Regions from separate parts of the Homo sapiens genome. Here regions 2 and 3 are each linked to region 1. Evidence: fine-mapped expression QTL. A gene starts in region 1. Each other region holds a variant in brackets. All regions are shown on one strand. Distances are between the middles of the regions. Region 1 holds the start of LIMCH1 (LIM and calponin homology domains 1). Region 2 has its middle 110 kb from the start of UCHL1. Region 3 has its middle 120 kb from the start of UCHL1.

Region 1 (2,767 bases):
TGTATTGGCAGCTGTAAGGAGGGTGGCTTATTCTTGCCCCTTCTTCCCTTGGGAAGGTCTTCAAAATTGGAGGAGTTATGGCTGCCCAGTCACCTTCTAGTCACCTTACAGAGAGAGCAGGAGAGCAGAGTGGCACATACCCTCAGGCAGGATTCCTGAGTCAAAGGCTGGCTGCTGACACTTGCAGCCTCTCGGTTTTATTTGACCTTCACCTTGTGCGGAACCCACCCGCGCAGCACAGGACAAACCCCTTCTCCCGGGACTGCTGAATCAGCCACTCTGGGAGTGGCAGGAGAGAAGTTTCAGACTCCTGAGACATTTGGTCTATTCAGCACCATGAAGAAAACGGCTGTAGCTCAGTGAGAGAATCACAATCAGGAGCTGGCTGAATAAAGGTGATAAAAATAGATTTCCCGACTCCACAAAGATGAATCATTTTGCCATAGGGATTCGCCAGGCTCTGTTTCAACCTGATTTTCAACCCAGCCTCATAAATTTGGCTAAGGAAAATTTTCTTCCCCTAGATAACCAGTGCCATGGAACGTTTAGCATTCAGACGGGTCTGACGGGATTTTATGAGACAATTGTCCAGAAATAACCCCCATTCCTTTCCCGGCCTGCAGTAAATAGTGACTATGAAGGACAAGGACTAAGTGGGCAAGGCTGGAGATGCAGCCCTTCCCTCCAGACTCCTCCCTGCCTCCCCAATGTCTTCCTTGCTTCTTTTCCTCCTCATTTTAAGAAATGGAAGTTTTTAAAAAGCAAAGGGGGCTGTGGAGTCAGGAGCAGAATGTGACAGGGGCTCAGGTGAAGCAGCCCCACCATGAATGCAGCCACATCTCCCCCACAACACCATGTGCTGCTGGACCACATCTTAAAAATGCAGCCAAGTTGCTTCTCATTCTCAAAATTCTCAAAAATCCTTTTTATTTTGACTAAACTAATGGAGTTATGTGTCTTGTACCACATACCGGAAAATAAAAAACAATGCTTTCCTTAGGGAATTAAAAAAAAAAAAAAGCTTAATTAAAAGCAACAGGTGCTAACAGTTATCAAAGGACAAGATGAATCCACAGGAAAGTAATTTTCATATTATTTTCGCCATACTAATAAGTGAATAAAAAGTCACTTTTTTTTAAACCAAGTATTAAAGTCTAAATAGCTTCCTTCTTTCCATCATGGATACCCCTAAGCATGTATTTCTTTTATAATGAATTTTACTTACCCCCACACGTCCTCATGCTCCGCAATGAACTCCAGCCAACCCACTCTGGGAGATGGGAGGGGCATCTCTCCTGTGTGCTCCTCGTCAGCCCCAGCACAGCAGCCGAAATGCCCTTACATTTCCTTTCCCAAAACAGTCGTCACCACTGCCAACCCCTGCTCTGTCCACAAGCAGGCTGCTGCGGCTGAAATGCTGATGCAGTGAAAGGGAACTGGAAGACAGCTGATTGCCACACCTATTGGAGAGGGAGGCGGAGAAGCCCATTCCCTCTGAGGAAAAGGAATGGCATCTTCAGAAGTAGAGATGCCAGGATTGGAATTGTGCAGAGAGCTTTGTGTCAGCCACTAGCACACAGTAGGTTTGCAGTACTGTCAGGAAATCTGGATCTAGAAAAAGCACCCAAGTGGGACCCGAGGAACAAAGACTCACTCCAGTCCCAACTCTGGAACAAAGTTGCTGCCTGACTCCAGGCAAGTCACTGCCTTCTGGTCTCAGTTTCCTTATTTGTAAAATAACAATGTTTCAAAAAGTAAATCTCTAAGTGGCTTCTAGTTCTGGGATTCTAAGACCATCCTAATGTTCATGAGCATAATAAAAAGTAAACTACCATTTATTGAAAACATCCTGTGTACCATCCATCATATTAGGTATTTTATGTATATCATCTCATTTAATCCCACAATGCTGAGATGGGATTTATCAACCCCATCTTATAGATGAGGAAACTGGCAAACTCACTCCATGAATCCCCATGAAAAAAAAGGATCATCATATTCCTTCAGTGTTTTGAATTTAAATGGAGGCATTCAATCTTTGTGCCTGAAATTGAGATGACATCTGAGAATGGAATTTCTGCACTGCTGGGAGATTAATGTGTTTACAGTCCTCTGCTGGTATAATTCTGAGGTACTAGTATTTATGGTTATGGCTGTTCATGCTACTGCAAAATCCATTTTCCACCTGTTGCTTTTTATTAAACCTCCCTAAAGGACATGAACTATTTCTTTCTGCAGATTCTAAAAGCAGGATGCTGAAATATGTGAGCAGAAGCATCGTGTGCGGAGTTACCATTTGGAATTTTCAAATGCTATAAAACACAATGTTTACAACCAATTCATCATTTATAAAAGTTTATTGGATTAATATGCCAATGGACTCACTGGTATCCTGCCATTTATTGACACAAATACATCAAGTGGTAGGCTGACATTTAATATTTATTAATAACTTCTGTATTTCCTTACCTATTTCATAGTTTCCTTGCATTATGCTCTTTTATCTTTATTGTCATTCATCCTACTTTAAGTGAACTTTTTATTTTAGAATAGTTTTTAGATTTATAGAAAGCTACAAAGATAATATGCAGAGTTTCAGTATAACTCATGTCTTACATCTTACATTCCTATGGTACATCTACATTTATCACAGTTAAGAAATAAACACTGGTACACTACTATTAACTAAATCCATGTTTTATTTGGATTTCATTAGTTTTTCCCTAATATGCTCTTTCTGTTTTAAGATCCCATCTATAATGCCATA
Region 2 (2,767 bases), 170 kb after region 1:
ACCAGTCCAAGCTCTGGAACCAGTTTGCCTGGGTTCAAATCCCAGCTCTGCCACTGATTATCTGTGTGGCTTCAAGCATATCACTTACCATTTCCGTGCTTCCATTTTCCCATCTGTAAAACGGCCATAAACAGTGCTTGCTTGAGAAGTATCTTATATATCAGGCACTGTGCTGGGTGTTTGTTCTATACACAATATACCACCTCATGCAAGCACCTACACTACCACTCAAGCAAGCTCCTAGACTACCGCTTGTACATGGTAAGTGTTCCAGAAGTGTGTTTGCTGTTATTTTTATTTGGCACTGAACTAGCCATTTTTATCACTATTATCACACTCTGTCAACTCTAACAGCATAATGAATCAGGCTTCTACTTGTCACTGGCCCCTCCTATTTATGACATCTTGCATGGTCCCTTAGGGAAAAAGGTGGCAACCTCATCTGTTGGCTGATGACAACATTCAGCTCCACAGGCAACTTTTTTTTTAATTTTCCATAGGAAAAGAAGAGGGGATGCTATTTCTCAGTGCTCCCATTGGGTCATGACAATTAACAGTCACAGCCGTGGCCATTTATTGATACCATGGATACCAGCTACTAGTCAGTTATTTTGGGTTTTTTTCCTTTAAAAATACCTGTCTAATAAGAACTCATACAGGTGACCACTATAATAAAAATTCTTCCATTTCTTTTTAGATTCACTATCATTGGAAGTGCTCTATCTTTCCCTCATCCTAAGAAGTGGGAATTAGCTAGACTTCTATAACAGGTGAAAGAGAGGTTTGCTTTGACTTAGGGAAAGAAAGAGAAGGTGAGAGCCCTAAGGCCGAATGCTGGGGGCATGTTTATTTAAAGAAAAGAGATGTCTGCTCTCCCGCCTTGCAGCCAGGAACTCCAACGAGCCCTGACCCAGTCTAACTTGAGGGGAGGGTTAGCACCCTAAAGAATATCTTCACCCAAGGGCCAACAGAGAAATCACCCTCCGAGTGTCCAATCACTGACTGTCTCCAGGCAACTATTGGGTAAACTGCTTTTTTTAATCACTACAAAACACACACACACACACACACTTTGCTTCCTGTCAGGGCAGCAACAGAGTCTATTTTCTCTGCCACAGCCAAGTCCAAGTGCCAATCAGGCAACCGTAGCTGGGCACAGACTCACTGAGAAAGCGCTCAGGCAGTGGGGAAATGTGGCTGTGAGGCCCTAGTGAGGAACAGCCTGGCTGAAACAAGGAGGGAACAGGGTGATGACTAAGACGCAGTCCTTGGCCACAGGGCTCTGGGGTTCACCAAAGGAGGCAAATCCCCCCACCACACACACACACAAAAAAAATTCGTGATAGTAAAATACAGCAACTTTTCTAAAAAAAAGGCAAAAACTGAGGCTCAGGTGTGTACAAAGAAGGGAAGGATTAATGAGCTTAGAGGAATCAGGGACCATGCTGCAGAGGCAGTCGGGTTTAAGCTCTATCTTGAAAGGATTTGTCCCTGGAGAAGTGGAGAAGGGGCATTCCAGGTTGTGGCTACCCCAATAGCCATTCTCCCCTTTTTCCTGAGGAATACAACTCAAGAATATTATCTGAGCATTACTCCTGCCTGGGGTAAAAGATCCTTCTCCAGAGTCTCTCCTATATACAGAAAGGGCCATGTTCCTGAAGTTCTGGGCAATAAAATAGTAGCCAGTATGTCAGAA[A/G]GGGTTTCCCAGAAGCCACCTTATATGGGAAGGATGCACTCTTCACTTTCCTTGCCTCCATCCAGCTTCCTGGAAAGGTGATGTGATCACGACTCTCCAGCAGCCATGTTAGACTGGGAAGATGGGGGAGGGGGTCTAAGAATGGTAGTTCAAGTGTTGAAAGGAATCTCAGTCAAGGACCTCCAGGGTTTACAATTTATGAGGATCCCAAAGGGCACCTGGCTTTAGTAGTTTATAAAGCCCCCTCTTTTGGAAGAATTTGGGAAAAGTTCCCAAATGAGAAGACATCTGTGGGTCACCACCCTAAGTCTCACACAAAATGGCTCTCTTCCCTCACTGAAAAGCAAGCAGGTTTCCCGCAGCCCCTTCCTGCTAAGAGTGGAGTACAGCCTCTACAGCCTCTATTTTGTCCAAGAATTTTAATCCAGAGTCTAGGCTCAAACACAAATCCCAAAGTCCTCTCCGCATTTTTCTTAGAAGAGTTCTTATCTGTGCCTCAGATGTAAAATGGACAGTGGATCATCATGCAAACTCTGAGTGGCCTGCAAGGAATATTCAAGAACTTCCGAGGCAGGTACCTTCACCCCCTGCCCTACCACCAACACATATCTACCTTCAATAGACCTAGAGAAATTTAAGAGTGTTTCTACCCTACCTTGTTTCAAAACACAATCATAATAAAAGTATGTGTAGCATCCAACGCAAGCCCTTTTCTCAATAAATCATCATCAATCAAATTCTCCTGCTTAGAATTCTTCCGTGGTCTTAGCTTAAATCTTATTTTCACTAAGAATCCTTGTCTTTTTAAAGAGTGCTTTTCTCTTAATCCCCCCTGCCCCATTCTTTGTCTTCATAGTATGTATTCCAAATCGTAATTATATATGTATTGTTTAATCTCTCTGTCCCCCTGCCACATTGTATATTTCATGAGGGCAGGAAGTATGTTTATTTTGTTCATTACCTAACACCATGCCTAACACTATGCTGCACATTGTTGGAGCTCAGTAAACACTTTTCAGGAAATAATTTTTGAAAGCACACTTTCACACATTAAAATATTAATGCTTATTT
Region 3 (2,767 bases), 160 kb after region 1:
AGTTTAAAAATCAATCCAGTTCATTCAATCACATTTTTACACCTAATAGAACCCATTAGGTATGGGTTGGGCACTTGACATTCAGTGATACCTCTAAAAATAGCACTGTTCTAGTCTTATAAAAATAGGAGTAAAACAATCTATTAATGCCTCTTTTTAACCACTCCCAGCTTATAATCTTATACTCACCTCCAAGAAGTAGTCAGTGTTCTGAATAGTTCATTTTAATTATTTCCTTCCTTCCCTTATCATCTGTGTGTTCTTGTATATTACCACATTTTTAATAAAATGTTAGTAACAATTGGTGGTAGCCTCTTTGGCATCCACTTTACCCATTCTTCTACTAAAAGTACCCAGATTTTCCTCTAGGGAATTCACTGCTTCTCTGTTGGGTAGCAGCCAGCATCTTTGATAGGGACGGACCAGGGTGAAGTCTGATTGGCTTAGGCTAATCAACTCATCTATTTCCCTGGTGATCATGAATGAGAATGTGTCCTCTTTCTCTGCCCAGAGGGTGTAAAGAGAACTTGAGGACTGGAGTCGCTCTTTCCCAGCCAGCCTTTAGTGGAAAAGCCTGGACCTTCTGAAGTGGGGTAGGGCAGGTGTGGAGGCCCTATGTAAAGCCAGAGCATAAAGCCACACAATGCACAGCACGGTGGAAAGAGAGAGAGAATCCAGATCCTTACTGATATCATTGAGCTGCTGAGTCAGCCTTTGTATGAAGTAGGGATCTACCTCCAGAACGTCAATGAGCAATCAACTGTCTATTTTTTAGAGCCAGTTTTGGTTGGATTTCTGTTGCTTGCAACCATAAGAATGCTAACTAAAACAAAAAAAAAAATTGAATGAAAAAAATTATTAAACACACACACAGAGTTTAAAATAAAATAAGAAATACATTTTTAAATATATCATACTACTTACAACTCTTGATGGAAGTTAAAAATGAGTGGCCTATCATGTCAGAGCAATACCAGGGTTCATCAGGCTGCTTGGGAACCAGAGTCCCCATGCATTAGAATGTGGGGTTTGGGAGATGCCTGGAGCACTCTTTCTATACAATCACTCTCCTTCCCAGGTGGCAAAACTGTCAAGGTGAGAGGACTTATTTTTGGAGTTTCTTTTAAAATACAGAAAACATGTCTAAAGCCAACACTGGCCTCCAGCATCCTTAGGCATCCCCTACCTCTACCCTCCTGCCCCCAGCTCTTTACTGCTGTTCCCCCTCATCAATATCCCTCACAGACACCCTTGGTCAACAGCCTGCATTTGCACCCTGTATTAGTC[T/C]GTTCTCACACTGCTATATAGAACTACCTGAGGCTGGGTAATTTATAAAGAAAAAAGGTTTAATTGGCTTACAGTCCTGCAGGCTCTACAGGAAGCATGGCTGGGGAGACTCAGGAAACTTACAATCATGGCAGAAGGGGAAGTAGGCATGTCCTGCATGGTAGGAACAGGAGGAAGAGAGAGCAGGGGGAGGTACTACACACTTTTAAACAACCAGATCCCGTGAGAGCTCCCTCACTATCTCAAGAACAGCAAGGGGGAAATTTGCCCCCATGATCCAGTCACCTCCCACCAGGCCCCTCCTCCAACATTGGGGATTACAATTCAACATGAGATTTGGGCAGGGACATAAATCCAAACCATATCACACCCCATAGCATGGTGGTTAGGAGCACAGGTAAAGCAGCCAGACTGCATGAGTTTGAAGATCAGCTCTACCACCTAATGACCGTAAAACCCTTAGCCATTCACTCATTTCTAGGTTTAATGGGAGTAATAAGAGTTTGTAGCTAGCTCATAGGATGGTTGAAAAGTCAGGTGCTTAGGACAGAATTTGCCAGGCCATAAGCTCTCATAAATGTTAGCTATGTTTCTATTCTTTTGTCAGGAACTATAGTAATTTGAGAGAGTTTGGAGAAAATCCAACTGCTGTCCTCCCAGACAAGGCCAGCCATGGCCCAGGCCGGGCCAAGAAGCACGGAGGATTCCTATCTTCGGTGCCAGGACCATGCAGCTTTCCTGCAGCCCACTCTAGCTTCATCCTGCACCTCCCTCATACCTACTCCCAAAGCTCCTGCCTTACTGGTCTTCTTCAGCTCTTCCATTAAGGCAAACACTACAGCCTGAAGTGTTTGCCTAGAACATGATTTCTTGCTCATTTTTGCATGGCCAACCCCTGCTCATCCTTGGGGTCTCAGCTTACATAGCACTTCCTCAGAGAGGCTGTCCCATTGCCCCTTAGACCAAAGGAGATCCCGGCCCTTTTTGTGTTCCAGACCAACTTGCTCTTCCCTTTCCAAGCATGCATCACACGCGTGATTCTGTGCTCAGCGTCCATCCTTCCAGGTGGAATGGAAATCTCACATTTGTCTCTCATACTACTGAGTCCCTAGGACACGCTCAATAACTATATGATGAATGAATGAATGATGTCCCAAACGGAGACAAATTGCCAATACTCATATACTGGTGTAGAAAGGGCTCCAGAGAACAGGAATAATCGCAGCCAAGAAGTCACTGACCCTCAGACAAATTGCCAACCCTCAAGTCTCAGTTTCCTCATTTCCAACTCACTTAAGCTTCTCACTCACAATAAGTAACTCCTGTAGGTTTCCTGGATGAAAACAGTGCTGCTTTATGTAGTACCCAGGCACAAAATCTCAAAGAAAAATGGATCAGAAAAACACACACACAGACAATATTCAACTACCTCCTCCAAAGGCAACAGAAGCTTCTCCTGGAAATGTTGTCCAAGGTCTTC

What was found. PIP is the estimated chance that this variant, and not a neighbour inherited with it, causes the effect. A credible set is the group of variants that fine-mapping cannot tell apart.
Region 2: its variant is the best candidate, but not a certain one, in a credible set for the expression of LIMCH1 in monocytes (TOPMed, PIP 0.58).
Region 3: its variant is the best candidate, but not a certain one, in a credible set for the expression of LIMCH1 in unexposed skin (GTEx, PIP 0.55).

Annotation. Positions count from the first base shown.
Region 1 is chr4:41,536,809-41,539,575 of GRCh38, reverse strand. LIMCH1 (LIM and calponin homology domains 1) reads right to left here and starts at 1,419. Exons shown (of 32, transcript NM_001330672.2): 1 at 1,226-1,419.
Region 2 is chr4:41,368,244-41,371,010 of GRCh38, reverse strand. It overlaps a transcript of LIMCH1 not described here. Among named protein-coding and RNA genes, the nearest start is that of UCHL1, 110 kb to the right of the region's middle. The variant A/G (reference allele first, on the strand shown) is at 1,697.
Region 3 is chr4:41,372,641-41,375,407 of GRCh38, reverse strand. It overlaps a transcript of LIMCH1 not described here. Among named protein-coding and RNA genes, the nearest start is that of UCHL1, 120 kb to the right of the region's middle. The variant T/C (reference allele first, on the strand shown) is at 1,288.